Homo sapiens: one gene and its partner. The protein of the gene in region 2 interacts with the protein of the main gene of each other region in a biochemical or structural test. Each region holds a gene or a part of one and is shown on either strand. Other genes may lie near its edges.

Region 1 (10,182 bases), on a different chromosome or scaffold from region 2:
CTTGCCTGTTTTCCTCTTTCAAAGAAAATGAATTGCACTTGGGGGCAGAGATGGGTGGCCAAGGCTCTGTGCCAGCACTTGTCCTTCTGTAACCGTTTTTCAGCGTCAGCCAAGCCTCAGTCTCCCTTTGGACTGCCTGGTTATCTGGACCATACTTGTTACCTGTAATAGAATTCTCTGATCTGAGGACACAAGACACAAATATTCAGGAATAATTGTGCTTAGTGTATCCCGAGCAGCAGCTGTGTAAAGGTAGCCAAGCTAGTGCTGGAGGGTGAGACAGGTTGGGTAGAATGAGTACTGGGAAGTCTTCCTACTTGATGAGAAAAAAAAATCGAATAGACTTCCTTCTCACAGTGGGGGATTGAGAAAGGCTTTACAACACTAATGCTTAATTTATACTGGACCACTTCCTTCCTTGAGCTAGCTGGTCACAGCATTCTTGCTCCATATTTCAAATTCTTCTCTCGCTGGTTGACCTAACTTTAGGTCTGCTGCTACTCCTGGATTTAGATTTACTCCTGTTTTTCTTTTTCTCTTTTTTTGTGAGATAGAGTCTTACCTCAGCCTCCTGAGTAGCTGGGACTACAGGTGTGCACCACTATGCCTAGCTAATTTTTGTGTAATTACTATTTTTTTTTTGAGATAGGGTCTCACTCTGTTGCCCAGGCTGGAATGCAGTGGTGTGATCACAGCTCACTGCAGCCCTGACCTCCTGGGCTCAAGTGATCCTCTCACCTCAGCCTCCCAAGTAGCCGGGACTACTGGTACATGCACCCAGCTAATTGTTCTTTTCTTTCTTTCTTTCTTTTTTTAAGAAACAGGGTTTTGCCATGTTCCCCAGGCTGGTCTTGAACTCCTGGGCTCAAGTGCTCCACCCACCTTAGCCTGCCACAGTGCTGAGATTAGAGGCGTGAGCCACTATGCCCTGCCTGGATTTATTCCTTGAGTCAGAGTCTTCCTGGTTAGTTTGAATTGATGTGTCATTTGTAATATATTGATTCCAAAGAAAGAGGTTGAAAAAACTGGCTCAGGGGTTCTAAGGCCAAATCTGTGGAAGAGTAGACCTAAAACCACTCATTCTTTGAAGTCCACATGTAAAGAAATTTTCTTCTATTTCTTTCATTTAGCTGTTTGCAATAATTTTTTTTTAGTTTTTCTCTCCCAGTCTTTTTTTCAGTGACCTTATTTAAAATAGCTATTTTGGCTGGGCACGGTGGCTCATGCCTGTAATCTTATCAATGTGGGAGGCCAAGGCAGGTGGATCACTTGAGGTCAGAAGTTCAAGACTAGCCTGGCCAACATGGTGAAACCCTGTCTCTACTAAAAATACAAAAGTTAGCCAGACGCGGTGGCATGCGCCTGTAATTCCAGTTATTCTGGAGGCTGAGGCATGACGATCACTTGAACCCAGGAGGCAGAGGTTGCAGCGAGCCGAGATCGCACCGTTGTACTCCAGCCTGGGTGACAGAGTGAGACTCTATCTCAAAAAAAAAAAAAAAAAAAAAAAAAAAAAAGTTTTTGCGTTTGTTAGTCATCCGTGGTCTCTTCTTCAGAGATCTCATCCTTTCTGTATCTGGTTAAAAAAAAAAAAAGTGGAGCCTTTGTTTAATATCATTTACCTTAAAAATGGTTAAGTAGTACTTCTTAACCAAGAATTGTTATGTAGTAGCCTGTTCTTCTGTTTATTTATTTGGTTTTAGAAGTCATAAAAAATCCTGAACTGTATTGAAGAGATCTAGTATTTTTGGACCGTTTATAAAACAGTGTGAAATAAAAGCATCAGCATGACAGAACAACTTTTTATCAGAGATATTGTACTTTGTACAACTGGGGAAGGAAGGTACATGTAGAATCATTTTTCCTACATAACATGACAGGATTCGAGTCCCAAGAAAAAGCAAAAGTTCATGGTTCTCTTATTTCTTTTAACTTGGTCCTGTTTCATTTCAAGCCACATTAATTCACATCATCAATGTATGTGAATGCCCTCCAAATGCCTAGATCTGTGCTAGATGCTGGGGTGCCAAGATACAAAGAAAAGATCATTCAGACTGGAGAATGAAAAGCCTCAGAAGGTTATAGCAAACTACTAGACCTGTGTCTGTGGCTTATGAGGATATATTAGCATTTAACCTGTCTTCTCAAGAAAGCACGGTAAAGCTAAAGCATAATAGTGCGTTTATATTACGGTTTAAGGAGACCGGTGTCCTGATGACCACTCAGGCTTCTCTGTCCATGAAATCCAGCAGGTTTTTCTCTTTGCCCAAGCCTCCCTTTTTCTCTCTAAGGTTTTTTTTCTCATATCATTTCTTTTCAATCTATTAATTTAAAATATATTTAAAGTGCATTGGGTTTATTACACACAGCATATATTTTTTCACATAGAAGTCCTAATGATTAAGTGCTTTATTTTAGGAGTTGAGGCAGGAGAGGAAAACATTTTCCTTTCTAGTTACAGTATTACAAGTTAGCTATAATAGACTCATGGGAAAGTGGAAATAAAAAATACTGGCTATTACTAAAAAAACAAACAAAAGGGATGACAAGAAAACGAAGGAGAAAGATAAATAGTTATAACTTTCCAAAAATTATGCTCCCTAATTTTGTTCTAAGGGTTTGACTTACCATGGTAAGGTGGTATAGCACTGCCTTATCTGGACTGCCTGCATTTGAACCCTGGCCATGTCACTGTGTGATCCTGGGTGAGTTACTTAAGTTTTCTGTGTCTCAGTTCCTAATCTGTAAAGTGAAGATAAGAGCACTTAATTTGTAGGGTGGTTGTGAGAATTAAATGAGTGTGTGTTAAATTATATATACATAATATATACGTATATGTATATTATTGTATAAATATATATTTGTATTACATAATATATGCATATGTAATATTGTATTTGTAATGAGTTATAGTATGTATTACAACATATCACATTGTGTTGTATAATCTATACATATGTAATAACTCATTAGAAGAATGTCTGGCACATAATTAGCACTCAGCAATTAGCTATCATTTATAAATGCTCTCTTCTTAGACTCAATAATCTTCCTTTTGCCTGGAACTCAAAACTGTTTTCATGCCACATTTTTAACTGATTCTTTCCTTCAGCTGCTTGGAGTATTCATGACATGTATAACCTTTGTACATGCGTGAAATTGAGCAGGCCTAGAAGACTTTATTGTTGGTTACTAAGTTGGATTGCTTCAAAACATTTCTGCTGTAAGCACCCCTTTGAGGGTAGGCATGAAACTGTCTTAAAGGAACAGATGAAATGCCTTGGCCAGAGTTGTGGTGGTGGCTGACATAATTTCCTTACTTCTCATTCCTGTGTACAGACCATTTGACAATTTCCTTAAAACTTTTTAAACTTATGATGAATAAAGCCAGGAACTCTTGCTTATTTTCTGTCCTCCCTCTGCTCCTGTCACTAACTACTTCTGTAAACATAACTTCCCAACTTCTACTCCAACTTTAAAGCATCTGGTTCCTTAAATAAACAGGCCCTGTAGAGAGGCCGTGTTGTATGGGGTGTCAGCTCTGGGAAGAATGCGTGTGTTTGTTTGCTGGCTCTGGCAGGGTTGAGTCCAAGCTGACAGGACTGAGTGTGCCTGTCAGAGGCTTCAGGGAGCTGCCGCTGAAGACCTCGGCCTGTTGTTGTGAATCGCCAGACCTTTGTAACACCCGGAAGTCTGAAGGTCAGTCCTTTAATGCCCCGGAACTTCCTAACTGCCTCATTTCTTCCAATACTTGGCCTCTCTTCATCCTACCTTCCCTAGCACCCCCAGCCGTCTAGCTTATTTAATAGTCTCTTGAGTTCTGTTTCTTCCATTCAGCTTTGGATCAAGGAGTAGGAACTCTGTAGGATCTCCTTCTTGGTCCTGGTTGAGCAGAGTGAGCGAAACCTTCATGAAGAGTCTTCTCTCATGCAATGTATAGTCAGACCTTTAGCCCCTAGAGGGATGTTAAAATGACTTATGCATTGGATATTTCAGTAAGAAGTATCAGCAGATTTGATGAAGTGTAATTTATCTGGGGAAAGGTTAGTCTTCATCTGAAGTTTGGTTGGGATGAGAGTAGAAAGCTAGCCAGGTATGACAGATGGCTCCAAGGGAATGCAGTGTTAACAATTAGGTAAGTTCTCTGCTGACTCAAATGTTTGGCTCTGTGCACAGTGATTTTTAATTAGAAATCTGAGTCTCATGTCTGCTTGTGGAAATAATTGGAAGAAGGCTTATGTTCTGTTCAATTTCTAATGGCTATTTTCTTTTTGTGATTATTAACAACAATAATAGGCTTTCTATCCTGCTGTTTTGATCAGATCTTTCATGTCAGGGTCACAGATACTATTAGCAGTTTCTTCTGCACTCTGCCAGTTTCCAGTCAACTCTCGTCAACAGGCATTGGGTTCTCAGTGGGTGACTGCAGAGTCTGCGTTCCCCAACTTTGTCCCAGTTGGCCTGTTACCCTTGTGTGACCATCACATGCTGGGCAGTGCTTAGCACCAAGTTGTAATGGTCAGGACGGGGGAGTAACGTTTGTTCTTCTCCCTCCTTCCTACCTAATCCTACCCCTCAATTTTTTTTACAGAAAGTGAACTATGTTTTGAGGCTGCAGAAATGAGGCTCAGATATTTTATATAATTAGGAGCTAATATTAAGGCAGACAAAGCCATCACATTTGACATGTAATTTAAAATACAGCTTTTCTAGAAACAACAAAACTGTGGCAATGGCTCTGACAATATTATGAACTAGATACTGCATTTGTAGATTTCTACAAGTTTCAGTTCCCTTTCTCTCCTTTTGTCATCAGTGTTTTTATTGCATCTTTTACTTCTATTTTTAAAAACTTGGTGAAAACTTGTTCTTCCCACTATGTGGTCTCAGTGATTTGTATGCAGGTGGATTTGAGGATTAATGGGGCTTGAAGAACAAGCTGATCAATTTCAGTCAGTTCTAGGCAGCTTTTTTGTTCTTGTTTCAATGGTGACTGCAGTCAAAGTTGGGTTAGTAATATGTTGCTTTGAGATAGTTTGGTTGAATGAATGTTCATGACAGATTCCTCATACCTATGAAAATTTTTAGGTGAAAGATGGAGGCTGTTTTTCCTTCTCTATCCCCAATCTCAATCTCAGGAAACCACAGTAAAAACAAAATCCTTCCACTCAGAACCTGTCGTGTTTTGCCGAGGAAGTTTTCTGTGAATGTAACTTATTTTCTGTTTTGTGTTTTAGTCTCTGGCCCTCGATTCCTCATCTACAGCACAAGAAGTTTTGGACTAGCTTTAAAATTTCTTTCAAAAATTCTATGATTCATATGGGAGAGGCCAGAGGTTGTGATCACAAATGTTTTCCTGGCTGATTCCAAATTTAGAAGCAAACTGTGGCTGTTTGACTTCCCAGTCAAACTTGAACATAGCATGGATTTCACATTTAGGGGTGTTTTACTACCACCTCCAGAACTTGCTTCAGTGAAATATGCATGTTCTTAAAGATAGCAGGAGTACTTTTTTTCATGTAGTTATGAAAGACATTTTTCTCTTTTATTTTGGGGGTAATATTTTACCGTTTGTTCCTTGTTGGCTGAAAAATCTAATGCTAATAAAAGCTACTAGCTTGAATAGTCCAAAAGCAAACCCAACAGATAGCAGTAAATTCATTTTTCTTTTTCCCTTTCCTATAGTACTCTGCCAAAACTGGGGCTTTTTTTCTTCATCCTGGCTGCCTGTGTGTTTGAAAATAGATGGTCAGCTTACCATAAATATATTCACATGTAGAAACTTATATGTGATTAATTGGCTTGATTTATTTTTATCAGAAGAAAACGTATGTATGTTCCTTCTCTGGCTTATGAATACTATCCGTCTTATGTTTGCTTTGGATAAGCATTTTAGTCTTCCTGTATGTCCTAAAACGCGCGCGCGCACACACACACACACACACACACACACATACACACACACACACACACTTTCTAATATTGTACTGAAGCCAGTTTGCAAGTCTGGTTCCACAGTACAATTGCTCTGAAGGACCAGGAGAAATTGAACTGGGAAGGAAAATTTGTATTAACTTCAATAATTCCCAGACAAGTTAGTTCAAATCATTTTTATCTAGTATTTGCTATTTGTCACAAAGGATTCAAAACATAAATATGTTGTATACAAAATCTCAAAGAGATGTCTCAATACCCAGATTTGGGTCCTGGCTCTGCTGCTTCATAGCTGTGTGATTATGGAAAATCACTTAACTTCAGTGGTCTTTACAGTTGTTTTTTAAACTAGAGCAGCAGCTCTTAGGATTGTTTGGAGGGTCAAATGAGAAGTTTTATCAACGTGTTTTGTTAAAGGTAAAGTACTATATAGATGTCATTCATTTAGACACTTACTGAGCTGCCTGCCATGTACTGAGTGGAGTCCAGACCTGTGCATAAACAAAGCAAAGCACTGGGGCTATCTTAAGGATTTAGGTGTTCAGAGATGTTTCACTGGGAGTTTGGAAGAAGGCTTGACCACTGCAGTGCAGTGTTCTGGGAAAGCCCTCTGGCTGAAGAGAGAATCAAAGTGGAGGTGATTTTTAGGGAGATCTGTAACGGCACGAAGGAAGTAGGAAAATCCAAGATATGTTCAAGGGATGGTCAACAGAAACTTTATTTTAGGGTGAGGTAGTTGATGGGGAGTATGACTAAGGTTTCCAGGAAAACATATAGGGAAGTTAAAAAAAAGATAGCTCTTTTGTGGGGGATGGAAAGAGAGGAGGGGCGTGGGTAGTGAGTTTGGCAAAAGGACTTACTTGTGAAAGAGAGAGTTTTAACAGATAGTGCTAGACATGAGGCTAGAGCTGGAGGAACCAGAGGTAGAAATGGGGAGCCAAGAAGAGTTCCCCTTTCAGAGGCCGGCCATTGCTTTGGTCTTGGATGTGAAGGTCCCAGAGGAAAGCAGAACAGAAGGTGAGGCAGACCATCCTTTATACTTGAAGTGCTAACGTTTCCAAAAAGCACTCCTAAACTTCTGGACCTGGTTGAAGAAGAATGTGAGCCAAGGCATGAGGAAGCCAGGAGCTGTAAGACAGTGATGCCTATGAACAGATTTTTCTGAACATTTGTGAACAAGGATAAGGTTGAACTCTTGCTGATAATGTGCTTAATGGTTTGAATCATGGATTATTGGGCCGATTAGCTGGTCAGAGCCCTTTTGCTGATGCGGCTGGCTGACTTGCTTACTGGCCAAGAGCTGGGAGTAGAACACAGATGTCCCAACATGGTGCTGCATTTGGAAGTGTTTCATAGGAGTGTTGAAATCAATGCATTTGCTTTAGGGATAAGGCAAAGTTATGAGATCCCAGTTATAAGTAATATAGTTGTGAATTCTACTCTTTTTCTCAAGGTCATAGTACCCTCAACAGAGCTCAACTAGCCTTTCTAGGCCTCAGTTTCCCGTCACATAAAATGGAGGATTATCATGAAGTTTTGAAGGGAAGATATATGTGAAAATATTTTGAAACCTTGAAGTACCGTATGAGTATGATTTGTATAATTCCTTAATAAACCTGCTGATGTGTCACAGCCCCCACAGGGCCTGCTTGTCAGCCAGGTGATCCTGATAGATACAGCCCTTGAGCCAAACCCTGAGGAGCATGTGTATTAAAGCAGACGGATGAGGCATAAATGCGTTTGGTTTATCACTTGGCAGAGTTGGATGACAGGCTTGGGTGGGGGTGGCAAGAATTAAAGTGAGTCAAGATTGGCAGAAATGTAAGACGTGTATGTAGTGGTTTTCTTCTTTTTTTAAGCCTTTGTGATTATGTCAAACTTTTGTTAATATAATTGATGATGGTTTGAGGCAGTAGTTTGGGGGAACAGGATCTCAGGTATTAGATCTGGATTCAAACTTCAGTGGTGACCATGGACAAATTAACCTCTCTGAACCTTAGATTTTTCATCTATGAAATGGGAGTACTAATACTACCTCTTAGGGTCATTGTGAAGATAGTACAGGATTTAGTGTATATTCTTTTGTTGAGGATTTCTTGTAATGATTTTCATTACAAAGCTTCTGACACATTACCAGTTAGATGCTTAAATATTTGTACATGTGCTTAATTTTTTTCATATCTCTAATATTTCTAGAGAATTATTATAGGTACTCACAAGAACTGCATCTGGATTAAGACATATTAGCCCTGGCTAAGCAGGGTGACTCACACCTATAATCCCAAGATTTTTGGAGTCTGAGGCAAGAGAATCACTTGAGCCCATGAGTTTGAAACCAGCCTGGGCAACATAGTGAGACCCCATCTGTATAAAAAAATTTTTTTAATTAGCCTGGTATGGTAGCATATGCCGGTAGCCCTAGCCACACAAGAGTCTGAGGTGAGGGGATCACTTGAGCCCAGGAGTTTTGAGGCTGTCGTGAGCTATGATTGCGCCGCTGCATTCCAGTCTGGGCAACAGAGCGAGATACTGTCTTCCAAAAATACAAAAAAATTTATTAGGGGTAGGTAGTGGTGCACATCTAGAGTTCCAGCTATTTGGAAGGCTGAGGCAGGAGGATAGCTTGAGCCCAGGAGTTCAAAGCTATAGGACACTGTGATCGCATCTGTGAATAACCACTGTACGCCAGCCTGGGCAACATAGTGAGGTCCCATATCTAAAAGGAAAAAAAAATGTACTACTTGTATCACTGGACTCAGGATGAAAAAAGAGGAGGGTGGGAGATAGGTTTAGGCAGAGATCATCTATTCAAAATGCCTTTCTTTCTTTTTCTTTTTTTTTTGAGACAGGGTCTCGCTCTGTTGCCCAGGCTGGAGTGCAGTGGCACTATCTCGGCTCACTGCAACCTCCGCCTCTGGGGCTCAAGCAGTTCTCTGCCTCAGCCCCCCAAGTAGCTGGGATTACAGGTGCCCGCCACCACACCCGGCTAATTTTTGTATTTTTAGTAGAGATGGGGTTTCACCATCTTGGCCAGGCTGGTCTTAAACTCCTGACCTCGTGATCCACCCACCTCGGCCCCAAAGTGTTGGGATTGCAGGCGTGAGCCACCGCGCCCAGCCCAAAATGCCTTTCTTGAAGCTATGGGAGATAGAGAAGAAAATAATCAGATTAATAATCAGAAAACAGTAATCAGATACCTGGTCATCTGGTTATAATAGCTTCAAGCATATATGGTTAAATAGTTTTTGTTTTGTTTTAAAACAAAATTTTAAATTTTAAACAAAATTTAAAAATTTAAGAGACATGGTCTTTACTGTGTCACCCAGACTGGAGTGCAGGGGTGTAATCATGGTTTGTTGTAACCTTGAATTCCTGGGCTCAAGTGATCCTCCTGCCTCAGCCTCTGCAGTAGCTAGGACTACAGGCACATATCCCTGTGCCTGGCTAGTAAATAGGTTGAAATAACTTAAAGTTATTTATTTTTATTTATTTATTTTTTGAGACTGAGTCTCACTGTTGTCCTGGCTGGATGGAGTACAGTGGCATGATTTCAGCTCACTGCAACCTCTGCCTCCTGGGTTCAAGTGATCCTCCTGCCTCAGCCTCCAAAGTAGCTGGGACTGCAGATGTGCACCACCACACCTGGCTAATTTTTGTATTTTTAGTAGAGATGGGGTTTCACCATGTTGGCCAGGCTGGTCTTGAACTCCTGACCTCAGGTGATCTGCCTGCCTCAGCCTCCCAAAGTGCTGGGATTACAGGCATGAGCCACTGCACCTGACCAAATTATTTTTTAAAGACTATAATTTAATAACAATTTTTCTTCCCCTTCATTAAGCTTTAATTTGTTAAGAGTTAATGGCTCTGGTTTAAGTTGATAGCTCTGAAATAGCACCTTGCATATTTCACCCCTTTCTTTAACTGAGCAGCTGCTGTTAGCTTTGCACTCTACTGATCTCTGTGAAGTTTCAAGAAATATTAGTGAAATGTGATAGGTACTTCTTAGGAACTTTGCTTGAAAGAATAGCGGACCAGAATGTTGATGGAATTATTTTTTATTATGTGCATATTGCTTTTTTAAACTTTTAACAATTATTTAAAAATAGAGATGAGGTCTTACTATGCTGCCTAGGCTGGTCTGGGATTCCTGGGCTCAAGTGATCCTTCCGCCTGGGCCTCCCAAAGTGCTAGGAGTATAGGTGTGAGCCACCACACCTGGCCTATGTGCATATTTATTTAACCTACTAT
Region 2 (10,846 bases):
CCCCACAGGGTACATTCATCAAAGAGGAATTTGTCACCCAAGGCCATGTGCTTTTCAGTGGAAAGGAAGGAGGGAAACCTCTAAGGCCGCACGGTGGGCCCACGGAGCTAGCACGTGGGCGGGACTGAAGGCTGGATGCCGGGATTGAGGTGGGGAACTAGAGATGACTCTAAGGCAGGAACATCTGTACCATCTGCAGGGAAATGCTACCTCCCCGGGTGCCAGAGCTCCAACCCCACACACTATGTCTACTCTGGAGAGCCGGCAAGGCAGAGCTGGACTGGCTGGGTCAGGGTGGAAGTGCCCCAAGTCAGGGACAAGGAGGACGATGGGGACGATGGGGAGGAGAGACAAGTAAACTAGCAGTGCTTTTTAAAAAAATGTTTAAATAATAAATAAGGGCCCGGAGACATCTCTCTTGGTAAACTCTCTCTTCCTCCGGCCAGGCCCAGGTGTGGTCCACACCAGCAGATAAAAAGGGAAGAGAAACCCAGCTCCCGGCCTGGCAGAGCTGTTTCACGCAAAGGCTCTGTGATTCAGTGATGCTGTGCAGGGTGGACGCCAAGCTGCCGGACGGGATCTGGAGGGAGCACTGAGGATGGGTCCCATGGGGCCAAGTCCAGGCTGGGTGGGAGAGCGACTCAGAGCCAGGGCCGCAAGGTGGGCCTGGCACAGAGCTCCCAAGTCCACAGGGAGATGAGGTGATGGGCGAGTCAGCCGGGCCCCCCGGGTGGAATCAGCAACTCTGGTTTCCAGACAAGTTTGTCTTTCTCGAAGCCCATCCTGGGGGAATGCAGCCAGCCCCAAGCTAAGCCGGATGAAGCAGGAAGGAGAAGGCAGTCCCTGCATCCTGGACAAGGGTGAGTGTGGCCCACATCTCAACAGCCACATCCTCGTCTTGCTGTTGGGATGGACAGATGGACAACTCCGGGCCGCACCCTCCACCCCAACCCCAGGCCTCAGGACCTGCCTGCACACTGCCCACGCGCCATCCAGGTAAAGTGCTTAGAGAGCGACAGGGAAAGGTGCAAAGTGAGTGAAAAGTACCATAATTAGTACCATCATCTTGTCGGAGGAACTTGGAGGCCGGCAGCCCGCTCAGGGTTTGAGAAGAAGCCAGAACACTGCTCTGAGCAGCTGCCCCAACTCTGCTGCCTCCTTCCCTCCCCTGCTCTCAGACTGGAGGGCGTTTCTCCACTCGCCTGGCCCCAGCACAAAGGAAGAGATCGGGTTCCCTGCCTGGGAGCCCAGACATGGGTGGGAGTGGGATGGGGGTGGAGCAGGAGGGCCCACAGCTTCCTGGTCTGAGTCCCAGGCATCTGCAGCCTCCCTCTCCTCCTCTTGGGAGCAATGGGCAGCTGATCCCCCCAGTCTACCCCACCTTCCTGGGGTCTGGCCCAGCCAGGCCCCCCGCACCGTCTATGGGTGTCCGGGCCACAGGAGGAGCTTCCCTGCTGTGTCGGAGCATGCTGGGTGCAGGGGCAGGGTTGTTCCAGGGCGCTATTTCAGAGGCAGCATGGGGACACAGAAACAAGGACAGGGTGGGCCACAAGGACTGTCTTGCCCACTGCTCCAGGGGGCACAATATCTGCCAGGAACAGTGCGCCTCACAACACAATGCTGGGGCGCCCAAGAACAGTGTGAACCAGCCCCCTGGAATCAAGACAGAAAGGCACCCGGCCTCTCCACAAATTGGCCCAGCCCCTGCAGCCTGGACCCTGACACCCTAAAGCAAGTCACAGTAGGGGATGGGGGGGGGTGGAGCAAGGCCCCCCACTCCCACTCAGGCCTCCCCATTCTCTCAGATCCGACCCTTCTCTGAGCTTCACCCGTAAGGCTTATTCCACTTGTAACATTGTCGACTTCCAGACCAGGCCCTGCTAAGCCCTGGCCCTGGCGCTTGTGTCGGGAGCCATCATCATATTTTGTTGAGTAGGGACCAGGGAAAGGGGAATTAACTTGGCCACTGAAAGCACCAATAAGTTAATATAAATAGGATATCATAATAAATAGAAATCATGCCAGGTCAGACGCACAGCACGCTTGGAGCTCAGGGTTCCCTGAGACCCTGACCCTAAGTTCTGCTGTTCCCTTGCCCTGGGGACCAGAGACGGCCTCCAGTCCCCCTCAAGTACCTCTGTGTGACCTCACAAGGCCTCCCAGGGCCTCAGATGTGAGCTGCTACTCTGAGCTACCCCAGCCCCTTCTTACAGACCTTTACCCAGAGGAAGAGCCTGGGTCCCTCAGAACCTCTGCACCTGACTTAGCAACCTGCCCCTGCCCTACCCACCTCCACAAACCCCTGCTGCAGGTCCAGCCATCAGACCCTGGCCATCCCAGGCTGCAGGGAAGATCACGGGGAAGAGAACGAAGAACCTACCAAAGCTTTCCAGGCCTCTCCTCCTCCCAGTGTCTTCCTTCCCAGGCCTGAAGGTGGCTTCTCTGCCTCCCCAAGAGCCTGAATGCCAAGTGACCTCCTTCTGGAAACTTCTGCCAGATTGTTCCTATGCCCAAGTTCTCTGATCATCCTCAAAAGAAGACAGCCTTCCATCCCAGAGGCCCCTCTCTATCTTCCACTCATCAAACTTCTAGGGGACAAGGAGTCCTTTGGGATCCTAGCCCCTCTGGCCCACCTAAGTCCCAACCTAAGGGGCAGCAAAGGCACAGATGGTGATAATTTGCTGGGGGCTGGTCCACTCCCCTGGGCCCTGCTGTCTCACCCTGTGGTCAGGGCTCTTGTAGATGACTTGTGTAGTTTGTTCACTGCACAAAGTGAGCAAGGGGCCAAAGGGACAAGTAGAGGCAGAAGTCCAGCCCACGCTCCCCAGTCCACAATCTCCCAGAGGAAGGGGCACCTTCTTCTAGCTCCCTCCCTATGGAAGTTTCCACTCTGCTCAGCTTCATCACAGCCCAGCCCAGAGTGGAGTGGACTGGCCAGGCACCCTCGGGGTCTGCCAGCAGCCCCCATTTGGGTTTAGCGATGCCCTGGGCCCCAGCCACCCTTGGACAGGCCCCCACATCTGGACCCAACTCCTGAGATCCCTCGGTTCACAGCACACTTCAAGACCTCCTGCTAGAAGGCCTGGGCCAACACGGCGATGATCTGCTTATACTTCCCCAGGAGTTGACAGCCCAGCTTCTTCTTCTGGAAGACATCCTTACCCGAGGTGTCAGGGCCGTAGGTCACGTCCACATGGCCCACGTGGTACTTGCTGCACAGGCGGCACAGCACGTTGCTAAGGAGGCCTCGCAGGATGTCGGCGGTGGCGTTGAGCTTGCTGTGGAGGCTGAGGGCACTGGGGTTGAGGATCTTCTGGTCCCGGGTGATGTTGCCCAGGGAGGTGCCAAGGTACACGACTATGCGGTACAGCTCCACCAGCTTGGCCTTCTCCGTGCCGTTGGCGTGGAAGGGCGGGAAGTCCGTCACGTTGGGGCCACATAGCTTGTCCAGGTTGTTGGGGAACGGCTCCCCCTGGGCTGTGTACTGAGGGGCAGAAGGGAGGTGACGTGGGAGTCAGGGGTCAGTGTCCCAGCCCTGCCGCCAACCCTTTGGGCAAGCTCTTGCGTCTGTTTCCCCATCTAGCGCATGAGGACCCAACTCCTTGCCCTGTAAGCATCTGGAATTGTCATGAGAGCCAAAACTAATTGTAATGTGAGTGCCCTTGCTAAAGATCAAAGACTGAGCCATGCACGCAGTCATCATTATCATCATCATCATCATCACCACCCTAAGGGGACAGAAGGGAAAACTCGGTGTCTAGCCCTAGCTGGGGCACCACACACAAGTACTTCCATCCCTGCACTCACAATGTTCCGGGACGCCCCTCCATGCCCAGCACCCACAGCCCACTGCCTCTCAACCGCATCTCCCTGGTGCCTCACGCCCATTTCCCCTCCATCCCTCGCTCCCTGCAGCAGGACAATCACAAGATAAGAAGTGCCAGGTCCCCACCTTTGCACTCAGTTCTCCCCTTGCTAACTGGGCACCCTGGGGAAGCTTCCCTGGGGAAGCTTGGGCAGGAAGTGGCGGGAGTCTGGGGGTGGTTTAATCAAGCCCTCTCCCCATTCTCTCCTTCCAGCCCCAAAAGGTCCCCTCAACCCAGATCAGGACAGCCCCTAATGATATTTACAAGCCCCCTCCCTGCCATCTCCTGTCAGTATCCCAGGGGTAACTTACATAGAGAATAAAGAGGGCATTGGCACTGCCATTGAGCTGTGCCAGTTGGCTCCTGATCTGGTTCATGAGGTTGTTGTGACATGGGTGGCGTATGGCACAGGTGGCGTTGACAGGGGTGATGGGGAGGGGGCTCCCCGCCCCATGTTTCCAGTGCAGAACCAACAGCAGGGGCACAACTCCTGGGGACAGTCAGGAAGAAGCCATGAGTAGAAAGGCAGGAAAGGGTGGCCTGGGGTCATGGCACACCGGATGGGGGTCCAACAATGGCCGCATGGGAGAGGACTCCTGGTTCCCCCTCACCACCTGCAGCTGTCTTCCTGGGGCCTAGTCTTCACTCTGTCACTGCGTGTGTTTCTCTGTCTCCCTTTCTCTACCTTAGTTCTCCCTGCTCTCTTCTGGGATGACGTAAAGATGAGGGCAAGACACAAGCCATTTCCACCCAAAGGGTGCAGGGTCCAGGAGAGACTCCCAGCCATCCCACCCTTTCCCTCAGGAAGGCAAAGGTCCTAAGGCCCCCTGGCCCTCTGGCTGGAAGGCACCAGGCCCCAGGCCCAGCAGGCACCAGGAGAAAGGAGACCCCTCTCTTCCCACCTCCCGTGGTGGCCCAGGTTCCTCAGCAGCGCTTCCCACTCACTGGCCCATTGCAGCCCAAATCTCCGAAGCCAGGCACCCATGGGGGCCACGGGGCATGGGGGAGTGGGGAGGAGTCCTCGGTTGACCCTCATCTCCCTCCCAAACCTGCCACTTGATTCTGGCTCCCTGGGCCAATTGCCCCCAATTCTGCCCCCGCCCCCATCATCCTCTATCTCTTCCTTCCCTAGTGTCCCCTATCTCACTCAAGCTCACCCCATTTCTGCCTGGCTGTCCCCACTCTCCATCCCCAAATCATCATTCAAAACTCTCTGTTCCCCCAGCTCCGGACAGCCCCTGACTCCATGCCTTCTCCCGACTCATCCGCTGTCCCTTGTCCCAGGGGTTCCCCTCCCTCCTAACACACACACACCGGCTCAGGGAGGGAGAGGAAATGGTGCACCAGGAGAGAGAAAAGGCAAAAGGTCATAGGCAGTCGGGTGGGCGGGGAGGAAGGAAAGTGAAAGGTGACAGGAGAGCTGGGAGCTGTCCCGACATGTCCTGGTTTGCCCCTCCCCCAGGGGGGCCTGTTCTCCCGACTCCCCCCAGGCCCCCTTAGACGCTTTTCCAGGGCTCTGCAGAAGGGCACCTGAAGATGGTGGGGGCCGGGGTCAGCGGGCGAGTGAGGCTGGAGACCTCCCCCGGATCCCCCATGCTGGAACAGCGGGGACAGGGGCCTCCTCAAGTTCACTTCTCCTGGGTCCCCTGTTCGTCCCAGCATCCCAAGGCAGTGCTGAGGCCCCGGGGTGGCTGCGGGAGGGGGGCCACACCCCTATATCTCACCTAGCGCAGACCACACGCTTCCAGACACCAGCAGATGGAGGCGGCACCTGCTCCCGTCCCAGGCCGGAGTTTGCAAGCTGCTCGCCGCCCGCGCCCCTCCCTGGGAGCAGCCCGGGACCGCGGTTGGAAAGGAGAAAGCGGAAAGAAAGAAAGAAAAGAAAAAGAGAGAGGGAGAGTGAATCTGGGAGAAAGCGCAGAGGGAAGAGCAGCCAGCGAGTGTCCGGAGCGAGGAGGAGGAGGAGGAGAAGGAGAGGGGGAAGAAGAGGAGGAGGAGGAAGGCTCGGCGCCCCCTCCCTCGCCGCCAACCTGCCGCGGGGCGTGCGGTGCTTGGGACCATGTGCCCGCGCTCGCTCCGGGCCGCCACCCAGCGCCTCCGGTGGCTGCGCGGGCGCCCCAAGTGTTCGTGTGTCTGCGGCGGGTGGGCGTCCGGCTCGCGCTGCCAAGCGCCCCAAGTTGCCGCCGCGCCCCGCAGCGGGGACGCGAAGCCGGCGCGGGGCGGGTGTATTTACCTGCCGCCAAGACCTTCATTATGGGCTGCACTTCAGAGGGCCTTGGAGGAAACCTCAGATGCCGGCAGTTTTCAGAGGTTCATGCTCAAATGGGGAATTTGCCTGATTTATATACTGGAGCCTGTGTTGTAAGACAGAAACAGCTATATTTAGCCGGGATCCCCAGTCCAGGAAGTTGTTTGAGGTGCATCATAGGAAATTATGAATGGAAGAAAGTGAGAGTGAAGGGGGGGGACGAGTGAGGGGGGAGGGTGGGGAGAACAGACTTTTTCCCTCTTCTAAGAATTTGATTGATAAAATTATAATGAAGCCTTCGACAAAACGCCCTGTGGTTTTCCTGCCTGGCTTGTCCCGGGAGTTGTCTGAAGATGGGCATCGCCAGGAGGGGGCCCCTGGCCGAGTCAGCAGGGGTCCCAGCAGTGGGCGCCCCAGACGGCCCTGACTCACCTGGGTTTGGGGAGGTAGCGAGTCTGGACTAGCAGATGGAGACTGGCCCCTGTGCCCCCTGGTTGGGGGGCTTTAGGGGGGCAGTGGGAGGAGGAGGGCTAGGGCTTGGCTGAGAAGGAGGCTCCAGGAGGAGGGGCCGGGGCCGGCGTGGACTTTAGACGGTCATAAAGTGGAACTGAACATGGGCGCTGGAAGCCACCCCAGAGGTAGCCTCCTCCAATCTGCACATTGCCACTGGGCCCCAAGGGGCTCCGAGGGGAACACGTTGCCCAGGGCCCCAGAGGGTCAGGCCTCCAGACACCACCAGTGCACTCGCCCTGCTGACCACTGTACCTGTGAGGCTGGGGAAGGGGCTAGGAAGACATGGGGGTAGGGGTGACTGACTCAGTTCTGTCGGGACACTCTGGGAAGGTGCTTCTGGGAAGGCGGTCCAGCATTTCCATTCTGAAGCAGGACTGAGAGAGGCTTGGCGAAATCGTACCCCAGTTTCCTCCTCCGGGTGCTGATTGATGGTTGGGGAAACTGAGAAGTGGCTGGTCCCTTCCAGACCTGCCTTGGAAGCCCCTTTGAGCCCAGCCTCAGAGAATGATGGAGGTCCCCAAAAAGTGCTTCTAGAGGCTCTAAGGCAGTGTCACATGTTCTGGCGTCTTCTGAGGCCAGGCGATTTGTGAATGAGGAAGGGCAGAAAGGAGCAGTGGGGAGCCGGGCAAAATGAGCACAGGGACACCTCCAAGAAATGCAACAGAAAAGTGAAAATAAATACACCCTATGAGATGCGGGAATGCCGGCCAGACAGCATGGCCACGCGTCTGGGGCCATGCCGTCCCTAAAGCTGCCAGGGGACCCCCAGTACCAGGAGATGATTTAGTCCCCTGTGGCCCCTTCCCAGCCCTTCCGCCTGACCCTGACCTGAGATCAAGGTGTGTGAGTTGGTTTTCCAAGGCCAGGGAGCTCTTGCAGCCTCGCCCGGGCCCCCACCGCCCCCTCGCCCATCCTCCATGCCCCCAGTTCCTGCCTCTTGCCACATCCCAGACCTGCCCAGCCACGGGTTCCTCCTTCATCGTGCCAGGACGAGCCCTGGTGCCTGCTGCCGTTCCCCACCACACACACACCCTGCTTTATCTACGCTCTTGCCCCCCATTCTCTCCCAGCAGGGCCTCGGATGTGAGGTGATAAAACTGCCCATCCCAGCTGGCACTTCCCGAACTGGCTCTCCTTCCTCCTTCCTGCCTCTCACCCCACACCTTGTCTCTTCTTTGAGGGACCATGGAGGGCCCCACTTGGCACTTACTGCTCCTATACACTTGCTCTGGGGTCAGCGTACACTACTAGGAGACTCACCTGCCCTGGCCTGGCTCAGGTAACCCCACATCCCAGGACACCCCAGCTCAACCCTTCTTCTTACACCTCCCCCAGCATCTCCTGCACAAGGACCTGACCACTCAGAGCACGTGAGCTCTGGACCAGTCCCCAGTCCCATCCCACATCACCCAGACCCCTGCCACCTGACTCAGCCTGGCTCTCCTGACATGGACCCCAAATCCATGTGACCAGGGGCTCACTGTGGCCTCCACCCATCAAACCCCCGTCGCCCGGCCTGAGTCTCTCATTAGGCTCAAGAGTTCTGCAGCTGCCCCTACATCTACCATTCTGCCCAGTCTCCCCTGCATCCTTCCAAGCGGACCCCCAGGCCCTTGCATGCCTTCTGGCAAGCCAGACCCCACATCAGCCCTATAATCCACCCCCAATCGCTGTTTAATCTCAGCCCCACCCCACAGGAAACAGGAAGTGAGGACAGGGTCTAGAAGACACTGACACTAAGGCCCCTTAACCCCAGCCCTGACTGGCCCCTCCAGTGCCTCAGTTTCCCCTCCTCTCACGGTACCTGACTTGGTTTGTGCTCCCCAAGTGCTCTGGGCCCCTCGGCGCCCCAGGCCCAGCCTCCCCCTCCTGTCCATGTCCAGGCACCACCTGCTCTGGGCCTCTGGAGGGAAGGCTGGGCAGGGTCTCGGAGCCGCAAGTCCGTGTGCCGCCTGCAACGTGGCTGCGGCCCCCAGGAATCAGCCGCCCAGGCTACGCTCCAGGCCCACTTTGGTCTCTGGGAGTTTGTTTTCTTCCCTCCCTCTCTATGCTGTGTGTGTGTGTTCCCCGCCCCCGGCCGGCTCCCTCATGGAAGGCACCCTCCCTTCTTGGCTGCCGGCTCCCAGGGTCACGACCCCAGGCCCCACCCTGGAGTGGCAGCCCCGGCTTGGCCCCTTCCAGCTGTGACTTCATCCACAGCCTGTCCTGCTCCTGCAGATGGGGCCTGCTGGGGATTTGACCGGTCTCAGGGTGAGCGGGACAGTCCCGGCCACATGGGACCCCCTGACATTGAGCAGAGGTTACTAGGCCAGAACCCAGGAGTGCTGTCTCCAGGTGGCTGTGCCATCCAACCCATCACTGCTCTCCAGGAAGGGAGTGCACCCTCTAGCACGTGCAGCTACCCAGCTGCTCGTCTTCTGCTGATTGTTACCCCCCATCCACAAGTCTCTCCTGGGATATCACAGCTGCTTATTTTCCAGATGGGGAAATTGAGGCTCAGAGAGGTGAAGATAACTATGTGGGGCTCACATAAAGAGTTAATAACAGAGCCAGGTCTGGAACCGGGGCTTCTGTCTTGCAGGCCACAACAATCCCTGCAGCACCTCTTGCTCTGAGAGGGCGAAGGGCATGGCAGGAGTGCTCGGGTCGCCTTCCTCCAGGAAGCCTCCCCTGCCTCCCATGGCCCCGACCAGCTCACATCGGCCATGTCCTGCCTGCTCGTGTTTCAAGTGGGGATGAGTCTTATTCCTCAACCTTTGAGAGTTTGAATGGGGTCTGAGACTCACTTGTGCTCTAGACAGCACCTGGCTCAGGGCTATACTCTGACATGAATAGAGGTTAAGTATTTTTTGAGAAAGCATTTTATAGTTTCCAAAAACTGTCAGTGCCAACTCTCTTGTGGAAAGGAGATGGAGAGGCCTGAAGGTTTGAAGAATGGACTCTGGCCTCATTCACAACCAGGTTGGAGGTTTGGCTCTGCCAGTTATGAGCTGAGTGACTTTGGGGAAGGGACTACCACCTCCTGGCCTCAGTTTCTTCAACTATAAAATGGGAATAATGGTACCGCCTTTGTGGGTCTGCTGTGAGGGCTCAGGGCTCAGCATGGTTCTGGGCACCCAGCAAGCCACCTGTCTGCATATCATCACCCATTGTGCTGACCTCCCTGTGAAGCAGGGGTTCATTTGACAGATGGGGAAACTTGGGTCCATGCCAGGGTGCTGAGCGGGGAAGGCTGGGCAGGAGCAAGACCTCTCAAGCCTCTGCTGATGGTAAATTGAGGCAAGATACCCACGTAGCCTCCAGCTTCAAGGGTGCCCCAGATAAATCAGACAGGTTGTGGGAGGGGGCTGGCAGGGCAGTGTGCTCACTCCCCCAGAGCCCCCTTCCTGGCCCCTCACCACCCCCACCCCAAGCCTGATCTGAGGACAGCAGCTGACCTGGCCTTACCGCCCCCAGAAGCTGATTCACCCCCAGGCCCCATGTGAGAAGGAAGGAGACAAACTCAGCTCTGAGGGGCTTGAATCACCAGCCGCCCCCTGCAAAGCCCCGGGGTTGGGGGGGGGATGCGGGGGTGGGGGCCAGCCCCCTGCCTGTCTGTCTCTTTCCTGGACCCTGGGGCTCTCAGGAGAGAGGGCAGCATGTCAGTGGCATGGGCAGGGGTGAGATGGGAGGTCCCTTCACAGTCAGGCATTCTGTGTGGGCAGCCAGCAGCAGTTACTCACCAGGTAAGCAGCTCTCCGGGCATTGGGGAATTCCCCAAGACCAGCGACCCAGAAACAGCGCTCCGGGCACCCCCGGCTGCCCAGGCTGGCCTCCCTCCTTCCTTCCCCATCCCCTCTGGCCCTGGTACCTGGAAAATGAGCAGAGCCCTCAGGTGGGCCTAGGAAGGAAGCGGGGGGCCAGAGGGTGGGTCCCAGGCTCAGGGCTGGTGAGGAGTGGCCAGAGGAGATGGTGAAGCTCAGGAATGCCGGGCACAGCCCAGCCAATTGGGCATCCTGGCCAAAAAGGCAAGAGCACCGCACTCTTCAATGCTTGAGGAGTGAGAGTGTGATGCCACCAGCGGACCGTGCCTCCACTGTTCTCACCCCAGTGGTGTGGGTTCAAATCCCTCCTGCCCCAACAACCAGCTATGTGGCCCGGGACAACGGGCTTCCTTTCTCATACCCTCGGTTTCCCCTCTGCAAATGAGGATGCTGTCATAACAGCCTCGTGGGGCCAT

What was found.
Region 1: the proteins of LIF (region 2) and SORT1 interact in a biophysical measurement, tested with the Homo sapiens proteins (one study listed by IntAct).

Annotation. Positions count from the first base shown.
Region 1 is NC_000001.11:109,386,544-109,396,725, reverse strand, and holds part of SORT1 (sortilin isoform 1 preproprotein), read left to right. Parts: intron 1-3,590; exon of another isoform or gene 3,591-3,699; intron 3,700-10,182.
Region 2 is NC_000022.11:30,240,578-30,251,423, forward strand, and holds the start of LIF (leukemia inhibitory factor isoform 1 precursor), read right to left. Parts: upstream 6,183-10,846; 5' UTR 6,119-6,182; coding exon 6,100-6,118; exon of another isoform or gene 5,928-6,099; coding exon of another isoform or gene 5,591-5,927; intron 4,357-5,590; coding exon 4,178-4,356; intron 3,485-4,177; coding exon 3,074-3,484; 3' UTR 1-3,073. UniProt on the Homo sapiens protein: LIF has the capacity to induce terminal differentiation in leukemic cells.